Homo sapiens: one gene and its partners. The protein of the gene in region 1 interacts with the protein of each later gene in a pairwise test. Each region holds a gene or a part of one and is shown in the gene's direction. Other genes may lie near its edges. The genes, in order: TRIM23, NEDD9, MTFR2 and LMO2.

Region 1 (4,192 bases):
GCCTCCCAAGTAGCTGGGATTACAGGTGCTTGCTACCACACCCGGCTAACTTTTGTATTTTTAGTAGATTCAGGGTTTCATCGTGTTGGTCAGGCTGGTCTCAAACTCCTGACCTCAAGTGATCTGCCCGCCTCATCCTCCCAAAGTGCTGGGATTACAGGTGTGAGTCACTGCGCCTGGTCAACACTGTTCGTGGGTTATTAAACTGAGACATTTTCTTGGAGGACAATTTGGCAATACTCATCAAAGTCCCTTACCCTGCAATTCTACCTTTATATATCTGGTAGACAGATATCCAAAGGTTATCCTACAGATAATTTTGCAAATATACATAAATGTATGTCAACTTTTGTGTATGTATGTTTATGTATGTATGTGTATATATATGGATTTATAATAGCACATAAGCATAAAACTTCAATCTGAACATTCAGTATAGGACTGGTTAAATTATGTTGCAGCCACACAATGGAAGGGAATTCTGATATTAAAAATAATGCAGACCATCTGTGCTGATAATGGAAAGATACTCATCTTCAACATGTTTACGTAAAAAACAAACAGAAAACCCTGCAAGTTATAGAAAGTCTAAACTATGTTCCTGTTTGTGTCTCTTTGCATGAGTGTGCATGGAAATTTTCTGGAAAAATATGTTGTAACTGGTGGTTGCTCCTGGGAAGTTGGGGCAATGGGTGTTCAGAGTGGGAATGTAGTGAACTCTTCAATATATAACCCTATATATAAACCATTTATTAAGGTTTCTATGTGTTAATTTTTTTTTTTTAAGTTGATGCCTTACACTTAGGCAGGCCAGGCGTGGTGGCTCATGCCTGCAATCCTTGCATTTTGGGAGGCTGAGGTTGGTGGATCACTTGAGGTCAGGAGTTCGAGACCAGCCTGACTAACATGGTGAAACCTCATCTCTACTAAAAATACAAAAAAATTAGCCGGGCATGGTAGCACATGCCTGTAATCCCAGCTACTTGGGAGGCCAAAGCAGGAGAATCGCTTGAACCAGGAGGCAGAAGTTGCAGTGAGCCAAGATCATGTCACTGCACTCCAGTCTGGGTGACAGAGTGAGACTCTGTCTCAAAAGATAAAAAAATTACTTAGGCAGTATGTTTCCTTTTAGGTTGCAAGGACTTTATTGATTTCATTGTTAAGCTAGCCTTACAAAGTATATACATACACACACATATAAATTAGTTAAACCAAACTAATTTTTTCTATTCTTATTAATCTCAGAATAATTACTGAAAGATGAATCTAGGTTTTTTGTTTAGGCTTCTGTTAGAACACTGTCAACAAATTTCTCTATAAATGGTGATAATTAGAAAAATTATAATTTGGATGGACTGATAAAAAATATGTGTATATATCTTTCAGGATGTTGCTGGAGCACTGTCAGTAGAAGAAATCACTGAACTACTCAGTCTCCATAAATTATGCTGTGGCCGTAGCTGGTATATTCAGGGCTGTGATGCTCGAAGTGGTATGGGACTGTATGAAGGGTTGGACTGGCTCTCACGGCAACTTGTAGCTGCTGGAGTATTGGATGTTGCTTGATTTTAAAGGCAGCAGTTGTTTGAAGTTTTGTGGTTAAAAGTAACTTTGCACATAGTATGTTTTAAGAAATTATACATCTCAAAAGATGGTAATTTAGGATGCATATATATATATATATATATAAAGGAATCTTGGATTGGGAATTCAGTACTTTGCTTTAAAAAAATTTTGTGGCAGAATTAAATTTCTAATTGAGCAGATTAGATTGAATTAAATAGAAACTTATTGAATATACATTCTTTTAAAAAGTATATTTGTTATTTAAGTTTTTCAGATAATATGTGACCAATATACTGGGAAAGAGGTAGTCACAGAGAAAGGGTAAGTGAAGGTTTATTCTTTCAGTGAAAAAAGAATAGCCAATTGAGTGCCTAATGAGACCTCTGTGTGAAGCAAGTGAAGTATAGCTGCTTCTTTTAACCTGCCTTTTCACTGAATGTTGGCAGCATTTAGTAGTAGAAATGACAGTTGCTTAATGAAATAGAATCCAAACTACATATTTGGATAATAGGATTACTTTATGTTTATGTTCAGAGTTAACAGAACACCTTTAATGCTAAGAACTATAAGGTACAGAAAATTAATACTTTATATAGTGTTTTATTAACTTTCTCCTACAGCATTTTGTATAAAACACAATGAGGGAGTGAAATGTTACCCAATTAGGCTTGTCAGGTTAGTAATAAACTGAACAGTAATAAAACTGTGGAAGTAATTGGATCTGAATTTATGAAAGACCCATTTCCAGGACTGAACCTAGGTCAGAGCTCTAAATTGGTCCTTCTATTTTTCAACAAATTTAAAGTAATATTTCTTTCTAATATAATATTGCATCCTTTGTGGGAATGACTATAGGTAAAATGTAGTAAGTAACGCAGAACCAGGGTTGGCTTTATTTAAAAGCTAGTGACCTAAATAGAAAGCGAACTTCAAGAGAAGTTGTAAGTACAGTGGCAAATGCTTATTACTTACTTCAAACTGTTTCCCAAAATAAGTGCATTTATTTTGACAATAAAACTTAAGGCTGTTCATGAGAAGGCCTTGAAAAGTTACTCTAGAGGAAAAATGTCTAAAGAAAAAAAAAATTCAAAAAGTTTACATTAATTATTCAGTGTTGTGAGTAAATAAAAATGTGTGCTCTTTACTGTTTTTCATTTTTAAAGAATATTATTATGGAAGCACGATTTATTTAAATAGGTACATTGAGACTTTTTTTTTTTTAATGTTCTGATACATTAGGATGAAGTTAAATCTTAAATCTTATTAGTTGAATTGTTGTAAGGACAGTGATGTCTGGTAACAAGATGTGACTTTTTGGTAGCACTGTTGTGGTTCATTCTTTTCAAATCTATTTTTGTTTAAAAACAATACAAGTTTTAGAAAACAAAGCATTAAAAAAAAAGCCTATCAGTATTATGGGCAATATGTAAATAAATAAATGTAATATTTCATCCTTTATTTTTCAGGTAAAAGGTCATGCTGTTACAGGTGTAGTTTGTGTGCATAAATAATACTTCCGAATTAAATTATTTAATATTTGACTGATTTCAATAACTGTGAAAAATAAAAAAGGTGTTGTATTGCTTGTGAGAACTTGAACTGTTTACTAGTTAATTGAAGAAAAAGTGTAACACTAAGGTGAACTTGCTTCCCTTTTCACTAATTTTGCTAAACTTTGTAATGCACATTCTTAGCATATAACTGAACACAGTTGAAAAATTGTGCCTGATTATAATGTATGTATAATGGTAGGTGTTTGTGTGTGATTCATTTTTAAAGAAATATTTTTCTCAAGCTCCTATTACTATTTGTGGTTGTATTATTTCACTAATCATTAGTTAAGACTGTGCTAGTCTTCCCTGGGAAACTAAGAAGAGAGCTTTTTTATATACAGTATATTAGAATTTTCCTAGTAGCTGAATTTCTGTATTAGGTCTAAATATTACTGTATGTTATATAAAGCAGGTATGTCAAGTGTATAGCCGTAGTCTATAATTCAGGAATGCTTTATAACCATCAGAAGCCATTATTTGCACTACATATATGATAAGTATAGACAGCAATAAAATGTTAAGATCATTTTTAAGAAGTCCCATCATTATTCTTGAAAGTCTCTTTCTTGAACCATCTACCTAATATTATTGCTAGTTGTAACCAATTTAAGAAGTCATTATTTGTGCTGTGGTTAGGAGAGAAAATAAAACAAAATGGGTATGGGTTGGCATGCCTGTCAAATTTGAGATGTAGTTTATTTGATACAGCAAAATTTTAGAAATAACGTTTTGAATTTGCAACATAGGCCACATTTACTGATGAGAACAGATACTAAACTTGATCTTAACTACACCTGATCTTAGCCAAAAGGCCGAGAAGTAATGTGCAGGCCACATTTAAATAAGTAATATAACCATAGTGTTTTGAAGGCGGAGCTAAAGTTTTACATTGAACGAAGTGAAACTTTGTTACTGCCTTTTAAATTTTAAATGTAAACTTGTTTCATAAGAAAACATAGTATTTTAAATGACCATTTTAGAAAATGGCTTGCAAAACTTAGTGGTAGCTCATGAACTAATACTGCTAAGAGAAAGGCTTTTTATGTAACACTGGGATACTTCTCAATTGGCAA
Region 2 (7,165 bases), on another chromosome or scaffold:
ATTCCAGGAATTAAACACGTAGTGAGCAACGTGGAAGATAGATGACAGCAGTGAGAGAGTTAGGCAAAGAAACTAAAAAGAAATCATTAGAATAGACCAGACCAAGAGATTCAGGGGCCTGACCTCACCACCAATTGCTGTTATAACTCAAACTGGTGGGGCCCTGTGTGAGGCACTCAATCTCTCTGAGCGACAGACAGCTCTGCCCTCTCTATGAGTGGCTGGATTAGGTGATTTCCAAAGTCATTTCCTGCCCTCACATGCTCTTCACTCTTTGCCCTTCACTCTTAGAGAGCAGTCACGTGGGTTCATTCCAAGTTGTCAACAGAAGTATTTCTTCTTTCTAGCCTCCTCTTGATTTTTTGCTGTATTTATGCCAGTGCCCAGTTGCAGCTGGAAAATCATTAGAATGGCATCCGGTGCCATTTCCCTCACTCCTGCCTGCACAAGCATCTGGAAGGAAGAGTGCTTGGTTGAAGAGCAGGCAGGCGGCAAGGATGACAGGAGGGGATGCCCACCGGAGTGCTGGCAAGTGCAGGAAGTGGAACCGGAGGCCCAGAGTTCTAGCCAATTTCAGGAGGGTCTCTATGGGAATCCTAGGGCTGCTGCATAAATCAATTACATAGCCCAGTTTAAACATCATTTTTGCATCTGATAGTAATAAATGAGGAAGGGAATTGTTTCTGTATTCACTGAGACAATTTGTGTTTCCCTGAAGAGTTTTAAGGGCAACATACTAAATGACACTAATAAAGTAACAACTATCTGCATTATTTAAGCTGCATTAAGACCAGAGCTCAATATTTTAACTAGTAGCCTGCTGTCCTTGAGTGTTTAACAAACCGGAGAGAAACAGATTACTCCCTGGTCAAAACACTGCAGAGGCTTCATGTCACACTCAGGAAAAAAATCCAAGCTCCCTACCACCTACCTCTCTGAGCTCATCCTCTCCATCCAGCCCTGTGTACCCCACGCTAAGCACACTAGACAGCTTGCTGCGCTTAGACACACTAAGCTCGTGCCTACTGCGGGCCCTTCCCCTGGGTCACTTCTGTCCGGAATGCTCATCCCCTAGATCTCTGAGTGGCTGGATCCCTGAAACTATTCAGATTTCTGCTTAAATATCATCTCCTCAGAGGAGCTTCCCTGACCACTTTATCTAAAATAATACACCTCCTGTCCCACCCTGGTCTGTTTTCCTCCAGCAATTTTCCCTGCTTAATTTTTCTTCATAGCATTTATCACTGCAAATCATATTATACATTCATTTAATTATTTTCCTCAACTCTCACTAGACTGTAAGCTCCATGAAGATGGGAACTTTGTCTGGGCTACTGCTGTATCCTCCCCTCCTAGAAAGGTACCTGGCACATGCTAGGTGCTCTAGTGATAACAGTTCAGTGAGAAAGCTGCCTTATGAAAGAATGGCACACAGAGAAGGGGTTCCTCCAACTTCTTCTGAATGCCTACCACACTTATCAACAGTAGTCTAATATTAATACTAGTTATAATTAATACAATAATTAAATAATAATCTATAGAATATAGCAATAATGTCATAAAATATTAACAAAATATCATAAATCTGATATTAATTAAAATAATAACTAATAACAACAGTAATAAGAACAAGCAACCATTTAAGGTCTTACAATGTAACAAGTACTATTAAATTCTATCCACATTATCTTATTTAATCCTCATTATGAGGCTAGCAGGTATTATTATTTTCTCTATTTCATACTGAAGGACATCAAAATTAAGAAGTTCAACTGGCCAGGCACAGTGGCCCACGCCTGTAATCCCAGCACTTTGGGAGACTGAAGCAGGTAGATCACCTGAGGTCAGGAGTTCGAGACCAGCCTGGCCAATCTGGTGAAACCCCGTCTCTACTAAAAATACAAAAAATTAGCCAGGTATGGTGGCAGACACATGTAATCCCAGCTACTCGGGAGGCTGAGGGAATTGCTTGAACCAGAGATGCGGGGATTGCAGTGAGCCGATATTGCACCACTGCACTCCAGCCTGGGCAACAAGAATGAAACTTTGTCTCAAAAAAAAAAAAAAAAAAAATTAAAAATGTTTTGAGGTTCCAGCACAGGTTTACCTGATTCCAACACCCTTGTGCTTTCCTTTAGGCAGCTAACTATATACTGACCCAAGCCTTCTTGAAATGAACTTCGGGTAGATTACATGTGTCTTACTTACCTTACAGGACAGAAACAGGAAAGCAGGAGGGCCACTAGCTAGAGAATGAAATTACAAAAAAACCCCAGCACAAACTTTAGGAAACTGTTTGAAAACATTAAAATAGGATGGGACAGCACTCACTTACTCAATGATATTCATCAAACAAAACAGAAAAAGGATTCAGCTTGACCACTTAGGAAGCCAAAGGAATGTTATCTAGATCTCTTGGAGGCCGCAAGACTCATCTTACAGATGGGAAGGGCTTTGAATCATTGTCCTCCTTTATCCAGGTAGACACCAAAAACAATTTCCTGCAAACTAACGACTCTCCGGTCAGTCTGCAGGATTCTTAAGGAGATCGTTACAATGCAATATGCTGCGTGCTTAATTTGTGTTCAGAAAGGCCTTGCACAATCACTCAGGCTTATTTTTGCTCTAAGGACAAATGAGGAGAAGCAAGGCCTAATACAGGCTGGAACAGGTATGTCAACCTCATTAGGATGGCCTGGGGGGTCATGTCCCTGGAATCAGTGCCACACTGAACTGCAAACTAACCTGCCAACCCTGTATCTGGAAACCACTTTTGTAGGACAGCTGTTCTCTCATTCCTTTTGCTTAGATCATAAAAGTAGAGTTTTCATCCATTGGGAATTTGTGTGTTAGACGCGAAGGGAATCAGATTCTGATCCAACTTGGTCAGGAAAAAAAAAAATAAGGGCTGATTTTTCCATCCAAGTCATGTAGTCTGGTTGGAGTGCATCCCACTCAGGGACAGCTATTGTCTGGATTCACCGAGTCTCAGTCTTGCCCGGGAAAAAGGAATTTTTCGCCTCACTGCTCTGTCCGTGAGAAGAGTTGCAGAAGGTGACCATTTCTGTTTTCTGGGTGATTCTCTTTCTCTATAGAAATCCTAAAATGGAACCTTTATAGAAATTATGTTCTGTGCTTCGCTGGAGAGAGACTGGTCTTTTTAACCAGGCTCATCAAACAGTGGGCATTTTCGTTCTCCTGGATAATAAGTGTTGGTGGGTTAATGGGTCATCCTCAGGACAGAGGTCAGAAGGAAAAACACTGCAGTGTTCAAAGCTGGAGCTAGAAATGCCAGCCGTCAAAGAACACAGAACTCAGTGGACGGTGATGATGTATAGGGCGTGCACTGGCCAACCCCATCCGAGAGGTCACATCTAACCTTTATCCTCAGCAAAGCCACTGAAGGTCGCTCAATATGTGTGACCCGCAACTCTGAGGCCCTGGTGAGAAGCTGTCCAGGAAAACGCTGGTGCGTGTGCTAGAGGGTTCCTTTTCACTAAGGGAGAATTGTCTTCCAGCTCCTTGCAGACTGACATCGCAAAGTACTTTGAACGTTGAAAAGAACAAAAAAAGCAAACAGTCACACACACACAAAAAGTAGGCGGGAGGAGGGGGAAAGAAAAAGGGACAGAGAGAGAGAGAGGTATCAGCAGGGGTGGTTAGTAAAAAGGGGCCCGGAGACAGAAAACCTTTTGTTCCCGGAGTTCGTTTCATGTAGAGATTGTGAGGTGAATGGCTTTGAAACGAAATGGGTTTATGAAGGAGTTGCTAGGTCACAGGAAGCGCGACTGTCAGACTGCTTTTGTGAATTCAGTTTCTTTAAAATTTGGGTTAATCTTAAAAAGAATGTATCTCCTTTTCCTGTTCTTTCTCTTTCTGTCTTCTTTTTTGGCGGGGGCGGGAGGACAGAGTAAGGTTCAGGACGGTTCCCCACTTTCTGTTTTATTTTCCACCGTCTGATAAAGCAAAAAGAAGCGATCACATTACAAGTTCTTTGTCAGTTTTTCAGAATTAGGGGTGGGCAGGGCCTGAGCATTACCTTGTCCCACTAGCCAATGGCGGGGCGGCATGCAAATGAGGTCCGCGATCAGCCTGCCTCAGTCACAACAGTGAGCTCAGAGACTTGAGGGAGGCGCTGCGACTGACAAGCGGCTCTGCCCGGGACCTTCTCGCTTTCATCTAGCGCTGCACTCAATGGAGGGGCGGGCACCGCAGTGCTTAATGCTGTCTTAACTAGTGTAGGAAAACGGCTCAACCCACCGCTGCCGAAATGAAGTATAAGGTAAGAGAGTGCCTTTTACAGGTTACCTTGCAAGCTGAAAGCTGTGCCTGCGGGTGTGTGCTTGTGTATGCGTGTTCCTTACTGTCAGTCCCTTGTGTGTCCCGGAGAGTTCTAAGATGAGTCTCGGTCACTGAGGTTGACATGCAAGCAGACAAGCAAGCAGAGACCCGGTCTTTGAGACCCACTCCAGGGGTTCACAGTACACCCGAGTCCATCTGCTCTGAAAGTTGCCGGGGAAATACCTCGGTGAGAAGTTAAGACTTGGAGCCGCTTCACAGCAGCCACTGGAGATCAGAGGGTGTCTGACTTGAATCGCGGCAGGCATTGGCTCAAGTCTCCTTGGCTTCCCCAGGCCTGGCTTCCACTGCCCTGGGGAACTGTAATGAGAGGAATGAGGACTGCATAGTCTGTCTCAGACTGGCTCTTAGTGCAAAGTTTTCCAGACTTTGCTTTAATCGTTTGGTCTCGGAAGGAGTATGCCATATGCACTTTTGGTGGGAGAAATTAAAAGCCCAGATTACACAGCTGAGGATGGAAAATTTTGACATCCTTATGTTATATTGGATGTAGGAATAAATAAGTATGAGCCATTTCTTGAAAACATTTTTATTGGAGTTTGAATGGGGTGAGAGTGCGAAGGCTCAGGCTGGCTCATTGTGCCTGAAAGCTTACAGAGTGTCATAGTCATAGTACTTCAGCAGCATTATTTTCCAATGCATTTTACACCATTGTTTGTGGATTTTTCTTGCCAAAAGGATTTTTGACTTGCTCCGTATATTCCCCCCTCCCCTTTTTCTTTTAAGTCACTCCCATCTAAGGAGGCAAGCAGCTTCCAGGGGACACAAAGAAAGCAGACTGCAATGAATTGGACATGAATTTTTCTTGAATGATGAATAGACATGAGTGCTAGTGCTACTATTTTATTTTATGCTATTTTAAACAAAAGTGTTATTATTAAGATGGATTTGGGCAAGGGTGCTAGGCTTGTGGATTGACAATTTATATTAACTGTACACTAGCTGGAAGCTACTTCGCTTTTTTTCTAAATTTTTCTGGTCCATCCTTTTTTGATGTAAGGTTGTAAATACTTGGTCTAACTGATAGCCACTGACTAGCCTCAGTAATAAAGCTTTTGTTCAAAAACTATGAATCTTATTCAAAAGCTTTAAGTCTAAATGTCAAAAGTCTTTATAGTAATGCCTACGTTACCACTGTCTGAAGACACAGGTATCAGCTATTTCTGTTTCATCAGCTTTCTATTATCTTCATCAGTAGGGAAGATCAGAGGAAAGGGTCATCCTGAAGACTATTAATATTTGACTTTAGGATGCAACCAGAAACAAATCCCTCTACTTGGCAGGAAAGTTATCTTCCTTAAAGTGGCTCACCCCATATTTCCTTATTTAGAACAATGATAGGACCAGATATTACTCAGCCTGGAGTGACTTTTTTGCTCCTCCTTTCCCTGTTGTTGAATAAGAACTGGCTTGCAGAAAAAAGAGAAAGTATGTTCATATGTCTATTATTGGAAAGTATAAATGGCTGAAATTAACATTGAGTGCTATAATCTAGAAAGTGACGAAAGCGACAAAGTCTCAAGTCACTTTTATTCAATGATCTCATCGTGGTTAGCTTTACTCTTTATGGAAAGAAAATCTAAAGGCAACTGATAAAGTGACTGACAGCGTAAACTGCGATTGGCATTCATGGAGAAACCTGCTTCTCCACTGGGCCTTACTGGTGTTGAACACCTTGCCAAATGATGTAAATACATGATTTTTATTACCTTGTAGGCACCTTCACCAGCAAAAAAGCTAACTTCTCCGACCGAACACATGACTTATGCCCTATGATGACTATTAAATCAACCAATAGCTGAAGAAATCCACTTTCCTTTTTTATAAAGTTTTCTTTCTCTCTAGTTAATAATGAACAACTTTACTTCAGGAAAGGATTTTGTTATTGTAAGTAGAGGAGAGACACAAAAGTAATGAAGTAACATTAATTGAGACTTACTGTGACAACACAAGATTGTCATATTCAACTCTCCCAATAGCTCTACAAGGTGGGTATTATTTTTATACTCAATTTCAAATGACACAGAGAGGCTAAGTAATTTATCTAATGCCACACAGCTAGAAAGTGGTGAGCTGGGATTAGAACTAAGGCGATCTGGCTCCAGAACTCATGACTTTAACCACTATTAAGAGAAAGAGAAAGAGCTATCGTTGACCTCTCTAAAATATGGCCAGTGTTTTCTTCTCCCAGAAAGTTTAAGACTATTTCATCCCAAGTATTCCTGCAGGATAATTTCTTTTTAAGATAGTAACTCTACAAAGCAAAATGAAGTGCATGTTTGGCAGTTATTTGTTTAATTCGAGCCACTTAGGTAGTAAAACCAGATAATTATTAGATGGTAAAATCCCAGAGACAGGAATTATCTCTAAAATACTACGTTGCTCTATGCACTGTAAATTTAGCACAAACCTTAAAATGTTTACTGAAAGACTTATGAATCAGGCCCTATAAGATTGTCGTTGTTAACCTGATTATCTGGTTTGGCTGCCCCAGGGATCACAACTACGGAACAACAAACCTTCACTTATTTTGCACTTAATATACATAGCTTCAGGCCAGGCAGCAAGGTACTTGCAGTAATCCTGAGAACTGTGGAATGTAAGCTATTACTCCGGACAGACATTTCTGGTTAGCACTTATCTAATCTGTCTTTATTTCCCTGTATGTTTTTATTTGTCCACAGGAAGGTTGCAGTCACTGTCATACGTACTTAATTTTCCATTTCTCTTAGAAGGGATTCAGTCTGTGGTTATGTGATAGTAAATTACGGGGGCTTCATTTATTAAGAATTTTCTACAAAATCCC
Region 3 (7,048 bases), on another chromosome or scaffold:
ATACACAGTTTTCTTAAGCAATCGTGTTTACCCACAGTCCTTTATGAGCAAATCTTAAAGTGGAAAAGTTAAATACTCAGTACCCATCTTAAGCTTTGCTTAGAAAATAATATGCTTATTTCTCCAATGTCATTATACAGTGAATACATCAATTTGTGTTTCTAACTACAAGTTGTTGATTTCTGTTTTAGCTTTTTTAAAATAGAGGATGAAGTTCAGAGTGTATGTGAATTACTGAAAAAACTCTTTTTTTTGTTTGTTTAAGATGCATTCTCCTCCCCGCTCTGCTCTTGGACCTACACTGAAAATTCCTAACTGGATTAAAAATGAATTCACAATTTGACTTGACTCTTAAATTACTAAGCAGATGGGATTGACACTCTTTCCTTGCTACCATATCGCTACTAGCATTACAGAAATTGCTCCTGTTTTGGTTCTAATTAGTGTTATTAATATATATTACGTTAGAGATAATTGTGCATGATTTTGTAATAAACCACTTTGTTTGTAGGTTCCTTTGGCTTGAGTGACGAGCGCATTAGTTTGGGTCAGCTGTCATCATCGCGGGCTGCCCATCTGAGTGTGGACCCAGATCAGCTTCCAGGTTCAGTGCTTTCTCCTCCTCCTCCTCCACCACTTCCTCCTCAGTTTTCATCTCTCCAGCCACCGTGTTTTCCTCCCGTACAACCAGGATCTAATAATATTTGTGACTCAGATAATCCAGCAACTGAAATGAGCAAACAGAACCCGGCTGCTAATAAGACCAATTATAGTCATCATTCAAAAAGCCAGAGAAATAAAGATATTCCAAACATGTTGGACGTTCTAAAGGATATGAATAAGGTTAAGCTTCGTGCAATTGAGCGGTATGTTGTTGTAATTTGAAAAGTGAACTGAAATTTTGTCAATTTTATGTTTAGAAAAATTATTATGTTTATGAAAATTAACATATATGTCTTTTTTCTTATTCTTCTTCACCCCTGAATACCTCTCCTAGAGATAATGACATTCAATTATTTTTGACTATTTCTTCTTCTAGTCTCTTATCACCATATTTTTGAAACAACATACTTATTTGCTATTTCTTGATATTTTAATTATGTTGACTTCCAATTGTAGGATATTAGGAATATATTTTCTTAGATACTCTACCCAGGACACACACACACATCTTGCCACGTCTTCCTGAAATAGTTAAACCACAATCTTTAGTTAAATGAGTATTCAGAATTAATATCCTTATTATAACAGTGAACATCCACAGTAAGCCATTTCTCATATTGTAACCCAGGCTGTAGGGCAGTGTTGAAATTACAGCTCACTGCAGCCTCGACCTCCTGGGCTCAAGTGATCCTCCCACCTCAGCTTCCTTAGTAGCTGGGACTATAGGCATGTGCCACCATGCCTGGCTAATTTTTGTATTTTTTTGTAGAGATGGGGTTTCGCCATGTTGCCCAGGCTGGTCTCTAACTCCTGAGCTCAAGCGATCTGCCCATGTTGGCCTCCCAAAGCGCTGGGATTACAGGTGTGAGCCACTGTGCCTGGCCCCATTTCATATATTTTGACTACATTTTATTTGTTGAATAATTTTTTTAGAGTTAATAATTGCCTCTCTGAGTTCCATGTGTGTGTGTGTGTGTGTGTGTGTGTGTGGTGAAAAAACATAATGAGCTCTATTCTGTTAACAAATTTTTATGTGTATAATACAGTATCGTTAAGCACAATGTTGTACAACAGATCTCTAGAGCTTTTTCATCTTGCATAACTGAAATTTTATACTCACTGAACAGTAATCATTTCCCTCTCCCCTCATCCCCTGGCAACTGCCATTCTTCTTTCTACTTCTATAGTTTGATTACTTTATTTTTTATTTTATCTTATTAAAAAAAATAGAGACAGGATTTCACTGTGTTGCCCAGGCTGGTCTTGAACTCGGCTCAAGTGATCCTCCTGCCTCGGTCTCTCAAAGTACTGGGATTACAGGCAAGAGCCACTGTGTCTGGCCCAGTTTGATTACTTTAGATGCCTCATATAAGTGAATCATGCAGCATTTATCTTTTTGTGACTGGCTTATTTCACTTAGCATGCTGTATATTGTATGTATATATCCCATTTCTTAATCCATTCATCTGTTGATAGACATTTAGTTTGCTTCCATGTCTTGTCTATTGTAAATAGCACTGCAATGAATGTGGGTGTGCAGATATCTCTTTGAGATGCTGATTTCACTTCTTTTGGATAAGTACCCAGAAGTGGGATTGCTGGATCATAGGGTAGTTCTATTTCTAATTTTTGGATGACCCTCCATTTAGTTCTTGGTGATTCTCCTCAAGGATCCCTCTGTGCCTGAAGGATTTCCTTCGCTTACCTCTTGAGCATTCTTGCCCCCTTTTTTCTATGCTGCATCACTGATTTCCTAAATGTCATATCTTCCTATAGCTTCCTGAGAAACATAAAGGGTAGATTAGTTTACTACTTTGCATGTCCAAAAATGTTCTTTTATTCTTTTTTTTTTTTAGATGGAGTCTGGCTCTGTCGCCCGGGCTGGAGTGCAGTGGCATGATCTTGGCTCACTGCAGCTTCTGCCTCCTGGGTCTTGGTTCAAGCAATTCTTTTGCTGCAGCCTCCCGAGTAGCTGGGATTACAGGCACGTGCCACCATGCCCAGCTAATTTTTGTAGTTTTAGTAGAGACAGGGTTTCACCATGTTGGCCAGGCTGGTCATGAACTCCTGACCTTGTGATCTGCCGGCCTCGGCCTCCCAAAGTGCTGGGATTACAGGTGTGAGCCACCACACCTGGCCCACATTTTTAATTTTTAAGAGCTGTTTCTTTTTCTTCAAATGCTTCTTGTTAAAATCTTTTTGGTTTTGTTGGTCTTATCCCACTGACAGTATTAAAAGTGTAGGTTTGTTTTAAGTTTCCTCTGTTCTTGAATTACTGTATTTTTTGTGAGTTTCTTTTTTCCTTTTAGCTTTGATCTCTATCTTTAGTTTTGTAGCCTTGGGTAAGCATCTGGTGATTCTTATTTAAAATGAGGCAAGGAAAAGCTGATCGCATGTTCTTTGTGTGAGGTGGGCTTATCAACTTGGGAGCTTCACAGTTTAGTGATTAGGGAGAGGACCATTTTGTTGGCCACACCCCAGAGCTGTATGTCTTTTCTTTTGGGCTACAGGATTTTCCTTAGAAAGTTCTTCATTCTCCCTTGTGGTCAGGAGGGATGGGGATTACACAGCGGGTGCAAGTCAGGTCATTGGAGAGCTGAGTGGGGAAAGAGGAGCAAGAGAGAAGTGTCTTATTTAGCACACGCCCTGTGTTCAGCAGGGCGCCCACGCCCCATGCTCTCACTTTCATCAGCTTTCCAGCTTCCGGCATCTGGTTGCAATTCTTATCTCCTGTCTCCCCTTCTAATCTCTTTGTCCTTGTGGATATATAGATCTTTTTCATTTCTTTACTGTCATTTTAGTAGGATTTCACAAGGGATTTGCCATGCTTACTTGGAAATCCCTCAGTGAGGTTTTCGGTGAGAAAATAGATATATTTTCTGTATGATAGTCCTGGGACAGATAAGTCAGTTCTGTTTTTAATGAGGTTGTGAGTTTGATCCTTGCAACGATGCAGAAGGGCTCATTTTAAGTGAAATCCTTGTGAAGAGGAAAGAGAAGGGAAACCAGTAACCACAGGAAGAGCATGAGGCAGCTTGTTGAGAAGAATCTCATGGCTGTAGGTGCATGCTTGGTCCCAACTAGATCTTGTACTTGTGTTGTCGGGCTTAGTATCAAGTGGCAACTCTGTGACTGTTACCATCACTGGAAAAACAACTAAAAGGCCAGTAGCCTCTGCCTCCTGTCCCCCTATTCTCTCCTGAGTTGCCTCTACAGCTAACTTTGTTTTGTACGTTGCTGAGGAATCAGATGAGCTCTCTCACCTCTTTACACCTACAGATTCCCCGTGCAGATTCTCTGCCTTCCATCTTGCTGTTGGGAGCCAAGTGTCATCATTCATGGCCAGGCTCTTCCTTTGGTTACTGGTTTCCCTTCTCTTTCCTCTTCACAAGGATTTCACTTAAAATGAGCCCTTCTGCATCACTGAGTCTTCCTTCTATACTTCATCCTTCTCCTCACACCTGAGTACTTCCCACCTTCAAAACACATGTACTCTCAGCCGTTGTTCTGTTGTTCTGCTCCCCTTTCTGATATGAATTCTTGAAGTCGTCTATAATTTGTTTCTGTCTATCGCTGCTGCCTTCTACCCATGAAAACTCCATTGAAAACTGCTTCACCAGTGACTCCATGTGGCTAAATCCACTGGTCTCTTAGCATTGCTCGTCTTAGTTGACCTCTTGGCAGCATTTGATACAGCCTATGGTCCCCACCTCCTTGGAGCACTTTCTTTTTTTTTTTGAGACGGAGTCTCGCTCTGTTGCCAGGCTGGAGTGCAGTGGCGTGATCTCGGCTCACTGCAACCTCTGCCTCCTGGATTCAAGTGATTCTCCTGCCTCGGCCTCCCGAGTAGCTGGGACTACAGGCATGTGCCACCATGCTCAGCTAATTTTTGTATTTTTAGTAGAGATAGGGTTTCACCGTATTGGCCAGGATGGTCTCGATCTCTTGACCGCATGATCCGACCACCTTGGCCTCCCAAAGTGCTGGGATTACAGGCATGAGCCACTGCGCCTAGCCTGGAGCACTTTCTTTACTTGGTTTCTGGGAAAGCATACCCCCAGGTTTCCTCTGACCTCATCAGCTATTCCTTCTTATTCCTTAAACTCTTCCCCCTGGGCCTGGTCTTTAAATGTTGAAATACCTGGTTCAGACCTCAGCCCCCTCTCTTCTCTGTCCATGCTGTTTCCTTTGGTGAGCTCACCTAGTCCTATGACTCTAAATACCAGCTGTATGCTTATGACTCAAACGTTTATTTTTCTAGCCCTGACCTCTCCTCTTGAGCCCAGATGCACATACTGAAATGCCTACTTGACATCTTTATTTGCCTGTCTCACAGGTATCTCGTTTCACAGGTCCAAAACAGGACTTTTCCTTCCTACCTGTTCTTTTCCGCCACCTTGAAAACCTGTTCTTTCCCACGTCTTTTGCATATTAGCAAATGGCAACACGATCACCCGGTTGCTTAAGATCTAGGAATCAGGCCAGGTGCGGTGGCTCACACCAGTAAACACAGCACTTTGAGAGGCTGAGGTGGGCAGATCACTCGAGGTCAGGAGTTCGAGACCAGCCTGGCCAACATGGTGAAACCCAGTCTCTACTAAAAATACAAAAATTACCCTGACATGATGGCGCACACCTGTAATCCCAGCTACTAGGAGGCTGAGGCAGGAGAATTAATTGTTTGAGCCCGGGAGGCGGAGGTTGCAGTGAGCCACTATACTCCAGCCTTGGTGACAAAGCGAGACTCCGTCTCAAAAAAACAAAAACAAATATCTAGGAATCATCCTTCATCTTTATTTTCCATTCTATCTCCCACCGTTCCCATCAGCACATAGCTCAATTCTGTGGACCTCTTGACCTCCACTGCCAACTCCCCAGGCTAAGCCCATTCTTATCTAGCTTAGACTTCCGCAGCAGCCTCCTCAGTGATCTGTTTTCATTCTTGCCTCCTTATTTATTCTGCAGATAGTGACCAGAAGTCAGATCAGGCCATTCTCCTGCTTCAGACTCTTCTGTGGGTTTCCGTTGTGCTTGAATCAGTTCTAGAGCCCTTGCTGTGTCCGTAGGCCCCTCCAGGAGCCAGCCCTCACTTCTCTCGCTGAGCTCCTCTCCTATGCCCCATGTTTGCCCACTGCACTCCAGCTGCAGTTGCTTTCTTTTTTCCGTTTCTCACACATGCCAAGCTCCTTCCTGATGCAGCCCCAGATGTTTACACTAAAACTGACCCCTTGTCATTTTCTTAAAGAGGATGTTGCTTCCTTAAAGAGGCTTTTTTTCTGATCATATCTAAAGTGCTTCTGTCCCTAATCACTATTACATTTCCCTATTTTTTATTTTTTAATTTAGTTTTTTTTTTTTTTTTTTGAGACAGGGTGTTGCTCTGTCACCCAGGCTGGAGTGTAGTGGTGCCATGACTTGCTGCAGGCTTGACCTCCTTGGCTCAAGTGATCCTCCTGCCTTAACCTCCCAAGTAGTTGCCTGGCTAATTTTTAAATTTTTTCTAGAGATGGGGTCTCGCTATGTTACCCAAGCTGCTCTCGAACTCCTGGGCTCAGGCAGTCCTCCCACCTTGGCCTCCTAAAGTGCTGGGATTATAGGCATGAGCTACCGTGCCCAGCCTCTGTTTTGTTTTATTCACAGCTCTTATTACCAGCCAAATGATCTTACTTGTATATTGATGATAATCTTGCTGTAAGAATTGGGAGCAGAATACTCCCAAAGCATAAAATGGAGTCGGATGTGGTAGTGGGCATTCAATGAAGATTAAATGAATGAACAACCAAACAAATGAACAATTTGCGTAATTTTTTTTTTTTTGGCATGAACTCTCGTCCTTTTAAAAGTTCTTATTTATTTGAATTTTCCTACCCATTAGGAAATTAGAAAATTACCATAATAAAGATCTTCAGCATAGTGACATCTGACAAATCTCAGGTCATAACAAGGTTATGGCAGAGTCTCAAGTCACATGGGTTCTTGGTTTTCTGATTCTTCATTCATTGTGCCTTCCTTATTTCATTGCGAAAATTTCTTGAAGATTAGATTATTTTCAATCTCTTGAAGACTAATTAAATTGTAAGATATGCTTGTATTCCTGCCATGTTTGTCAACAAGGAGCTAAAATTACATCCAAGTTTTAATAAATTCAATTTTTTTTTTTAAAAAATAGGTCACCTGGCGGTAGACCCATTCATAAGAGGAAAAGACAGAATTCACATTGGGATCCAGTTTCTTTAATATCTCATGCACTTAAACAGAAATTTGCATTTCAAGAAGATGATTCTTTTGAGAAAGAGAATAGATCTTGGGAATCTTCCCCATTTTCTAGTCCAGAAACTTCAAGGGTAAGCTACACTAATGTAAAATTAATTTTTCAGTTTTTCTC
Region 4 (3,049 bases), on another chromosome or scaffold:
CTTAGCCCTTGACCATGGGTGCCCTGACATGCTTCGTTTGGTTGTTTTAACAGCTGAGTGAGGTGGAGCCTATGATGGCTGCCATTTCACTGAGGCTCAGAGAATCAGAGGTCTCTCCAGGGTCACTCAGGGCTGGTCCGGGACATTGAAGCTGGGTCTTCTCTGCTTCCGGTACTTGTGTTACTGCACTTTTGCTGTTGATTCTCAAATGTCAGCCTGCAACCAGTCCCCCGGAAGTGTTCATTAACGCACAGACTGCTGGGCCTTCTCCCCAGGGTGTCTCAGTTGGGTAGGGAAGGAGGAGGGCTGAGAATTTGTTTTTTTGTTTGTTTGTTTAGTTTTTGCTTTTCTTTTGAGTCAAGGTATGGCTCTGTGGCCCAGGCTGGAGTGCAGTGGCATGATCTCGGCTCACTGCAACCTCCACCTCCCGGGCTAAAGCCATCCTCCCACCTCAGCCTCCCAAGTATTAATAGCTGAGACTAGAGGCATGCACCACCGCACCCGGCTAATTTTTGTATTTTTTGTAAAGACACAGTTTCACCATGTTGCCCAGGGTGGTCTCGAACTTGTGAGCTCAAGTGATTTGCCTGCCTCAGCCTCCCAAAGTGTTGGGATTACAGGTGTGAGCCACTGCGCCCAGCCTGAGAATTTGTATTTCTGTCAGGTTCCCAGGCAGTGCTGATGTCGCTGGTCCCAGGACCAACACTTTGAGAACCACTGCACTGAGCCCTGCCATGTTCTGTCTCCCACCTTGACACTGAATACTGCCTGAAATAAGTGACTGATCAACTGAGGCTTGGGAGAGTCTTGATTTAAATGTCAGAAAAGAAGTTTCCCTTTTGATTCATGCCAGTGGGCAGCGAGGGCCATGAATTAAGATCCTCCCTTCATGGTGGAGAGATGCTGTTGGTCCTCCATATCTCAGAGGCACGATTAGCTGCACCGCGTGTTTTCTGTGGAACTCCCTGTCTCCCAGCAGCTGGGGCCCCAGCGAATAATCAGGGGGAGATGTGCTTTGCAGCTTATGGAGGTATTCAAGGCCAGCTCTCCCCATGGGTAGAATCAGTGGCTGTTGACATGATAGAGTTTGGGAGCCTCAGAAGAATGCCCGTTTTATTGCATTCCTGGTCAGTACCCTCTCAAAGGGGCCCCTAGGGTCTCTCTCCAGCTGCTCTTCTGAAATGAGGGTTCCCCTGGGAGGGGACAGGTAATACTTGCCTAACTCCTTATGATAGATCACATCAGCTGAGAGCCTTGCCCACAGAGGAGGAGCCAGGGGGCAGCCTAGGGGAATGATGAGCGGTTGCTGCAGACAAGGAGAGGGCTCAGAAAAGGGAGGAGTTATGCCAGATCCAAATGCCAGTTTCATCTGAGTTCCCTCTGCCTGCTGGTGAAGACTGCACTAGCCGGCCCTCCTTCTGGAGCCGACCTTCCCTGGCTTCCTGACATCCTGAAAGTTCGGCCTCCTTTCTAGGGCTCATCCCCGAGCCCTGTCTTCCAGGATTGTCCCTTTCACTGTCTTCTTAGCTTTTCTTTCTTTTGCCCCAGGCTTTTTGGGCAAGACGGTCTCTGCGCATCCTGTGACAAGCGGATTCGTGCCTATGAGATGACAATGCGGGTGAAAGACAAAGTGTATCACCTGGAATGTTTCAAATGCGCCGCCTGTCAGAAGCATTTCTGTGTAGGTGACAGATACCTCCTCATCAACTCTGACATAGTGTGCGAACAGGACATCTACGAGTGGACTAAGATCAATGGGATGATATAGGCCCGAGTCCCCGGGCATCTTTGGGGAGGTGTTCACTGAAGACGCCGTCTCCATGGCATCTTCGTCTTCACTCTTAGGCACTTTGGGGGTTTGAGGGTGGGGTAAGGGATTTCTTAGGGGATGGTAGACCTTTATTGGGTATCAAGACATAGCATCCAAGTGGCATAATTCAGGGGCTGACACTTCAAGGTGACAGAAGGACCAGCCCTTGAGGGAGAACTTATGGCCACAGCCCATCCATAGTAACTGACATGATTAGCAGAAGAAAGGAACATTTAGGGGCAAGCAGGCGCTGTGCTATCATGATGGAATTTCATATCTACAGATAGAGAGTTGTTGTGTACAGACTTGTTGTGACTTTGACGCTTGCGAACTAGAGATGTGCAATTGATTTCTTTTCTTCCTGGCTTTTTAACTCCCCTGTTTCAATCACTGTCCTCCACACAAGGGAAGGACAGAAAGGAGAGTGGCCATTCTTTTTTTCTTGGCCCCCTTCCCAAGGCCTTAAGCTTTGGACCCAAGGAAAACTGCATGGAGACGCATTTCGGTTGAGAATGGAAACCACAACTTTTAACCAAACAATTATTTAAAGCAATGCTGATGAATCACTGTTTTTAGACACCTTCATTTTGAGGGGAGGAGTTCCACAGATTGTTTCTATACAAATATAAATCTTAAAAAGTTGTTCAACTATTTTATTATCCTAGATTATATCAAAGTATTTGTCGTGTGTAGAAAAAAAAACAGCTCTGCAGGCTTAATAAAAATGACAGACTGAAATACAGTGTTGTTTATTTGATTACGACTTATAATTTGGGATGGCGGGGAAATGCTCTGCTTTTTCTTTTCTAAAGGAGAAGCAAATAAGCAATTTACTCTTAGGTCAAATAAAAACTTCTGTGTATTGCAAGGGTTTGTATGAGGCAGGCACATTTCTATATTACTGGCAATTATGTAACAGGTCATCATGTAGCTCAGAGGAATGTAGAATAATTAAATTGTTATTGTACAATATGCATTTCACTTCAGCATTGTATGGAGTGAGTGGAAGGCAAGATCATTGCCTTTGGGAAACTTGTAACCTAGAAAGGACACAAATACATAAAGCAGATTCCCTTTGGGAGAGAAGGTAATTACCTAGTTTGAAATGTGGCAAAGATGCTGAGCTTGACACTTCGATTTTCCAAGACGGGTGTCTCAGGGTGTTTTATGACAAGTGGTTAAGAGGACCTTTACTTTGCGGATTTAAAGCAGGCACCTTGGTTTGTGTGTTTGCCTTCC

What was found.
Region 2: the proteins of TRIM23 (region 1) and NEDD9 interact in binary tests that used the Homo sapiens proteins (3 or more experiments, as listed by UniProt).
Region 3: the proteins of TRIM23 (region 1) and MTFR2 interact in binary tests that used the Homo sapiens proteins (3 or more experiments, as listed by UniProt).
Region 4: the proteins of TRIM23 (region 1) and LMO2 interact in binary tests that used the Homo sapiens proteins (3 or more experiments, as listed by UniProt).

The regions. Positions count from the first base shown.
Region 1 is NC_000005.10:65,589,143-65,593,334, reverse strand, and holds the end of TRIM23 (E3 ubiquitin-protein ligase TRIM23), read left to right. Parts: intron 1-1,386; coding exon 1,387-1,566; 3' UTR 1,567-1,832; coding exon of another isoform or gene 1,833-1,891; 3' UTR 1,892-3,032; coding exon of another isoform or gene 3,033-3,036; 3' UTR 3,037-3,645; downstream 3,646-4,192.
Region 2 is NC_000006.12:11,229,621-11,236,785, reverse strand, and holds the start of NEDD9 (enhancer of filamentation 1), read left to right. Parts: upstream 1-4,117; 5' UTR 4,118-4,270; coding exon 4,271-4,282; intron 4,283-6,075; exon of another isoform or gene 6,076-6,347; intron 6,348-7,165. UniProt on the Homo sapiens protein: Scaffolding protein which plays a central coordinating role for tyrosine-kinase-based signaling related to cell adhesion. As a focal adhesion protein, plays a role in embryonic fibroblast migration.
Region 3 is NC_000006.12:136,233,284-136,240,331, reverse strand, and holds part of MTFR2 (mitochondrial fission regulator 2), read left to right. Parts: intron 1-511; coding exon 512-866; intron 867-6,832; coding exon 6,833-7,007; intron 7,008-7,048. UniProt on the Homo sapiens protein: May play a role in mitochondrial aerobic respiration essentially in the testis. Can also promote mitochondrial fission.
Region 4 is NC_000011.10:33,858,075-33,861,123, reverse strand, and holds the end of LMO2 (rhombotin-2), read left to right. Parts: intron 1-1,548; coding exon 1,549-1,768; 3' UTR 1,769-2,548; downstream 2,549-3,049. UniProt on the Homo sapiens protein: Acts with TAL1/SCL to regulate red blood cell development. Also acts with LDB1 to maintain erythroid precursors in an immature state.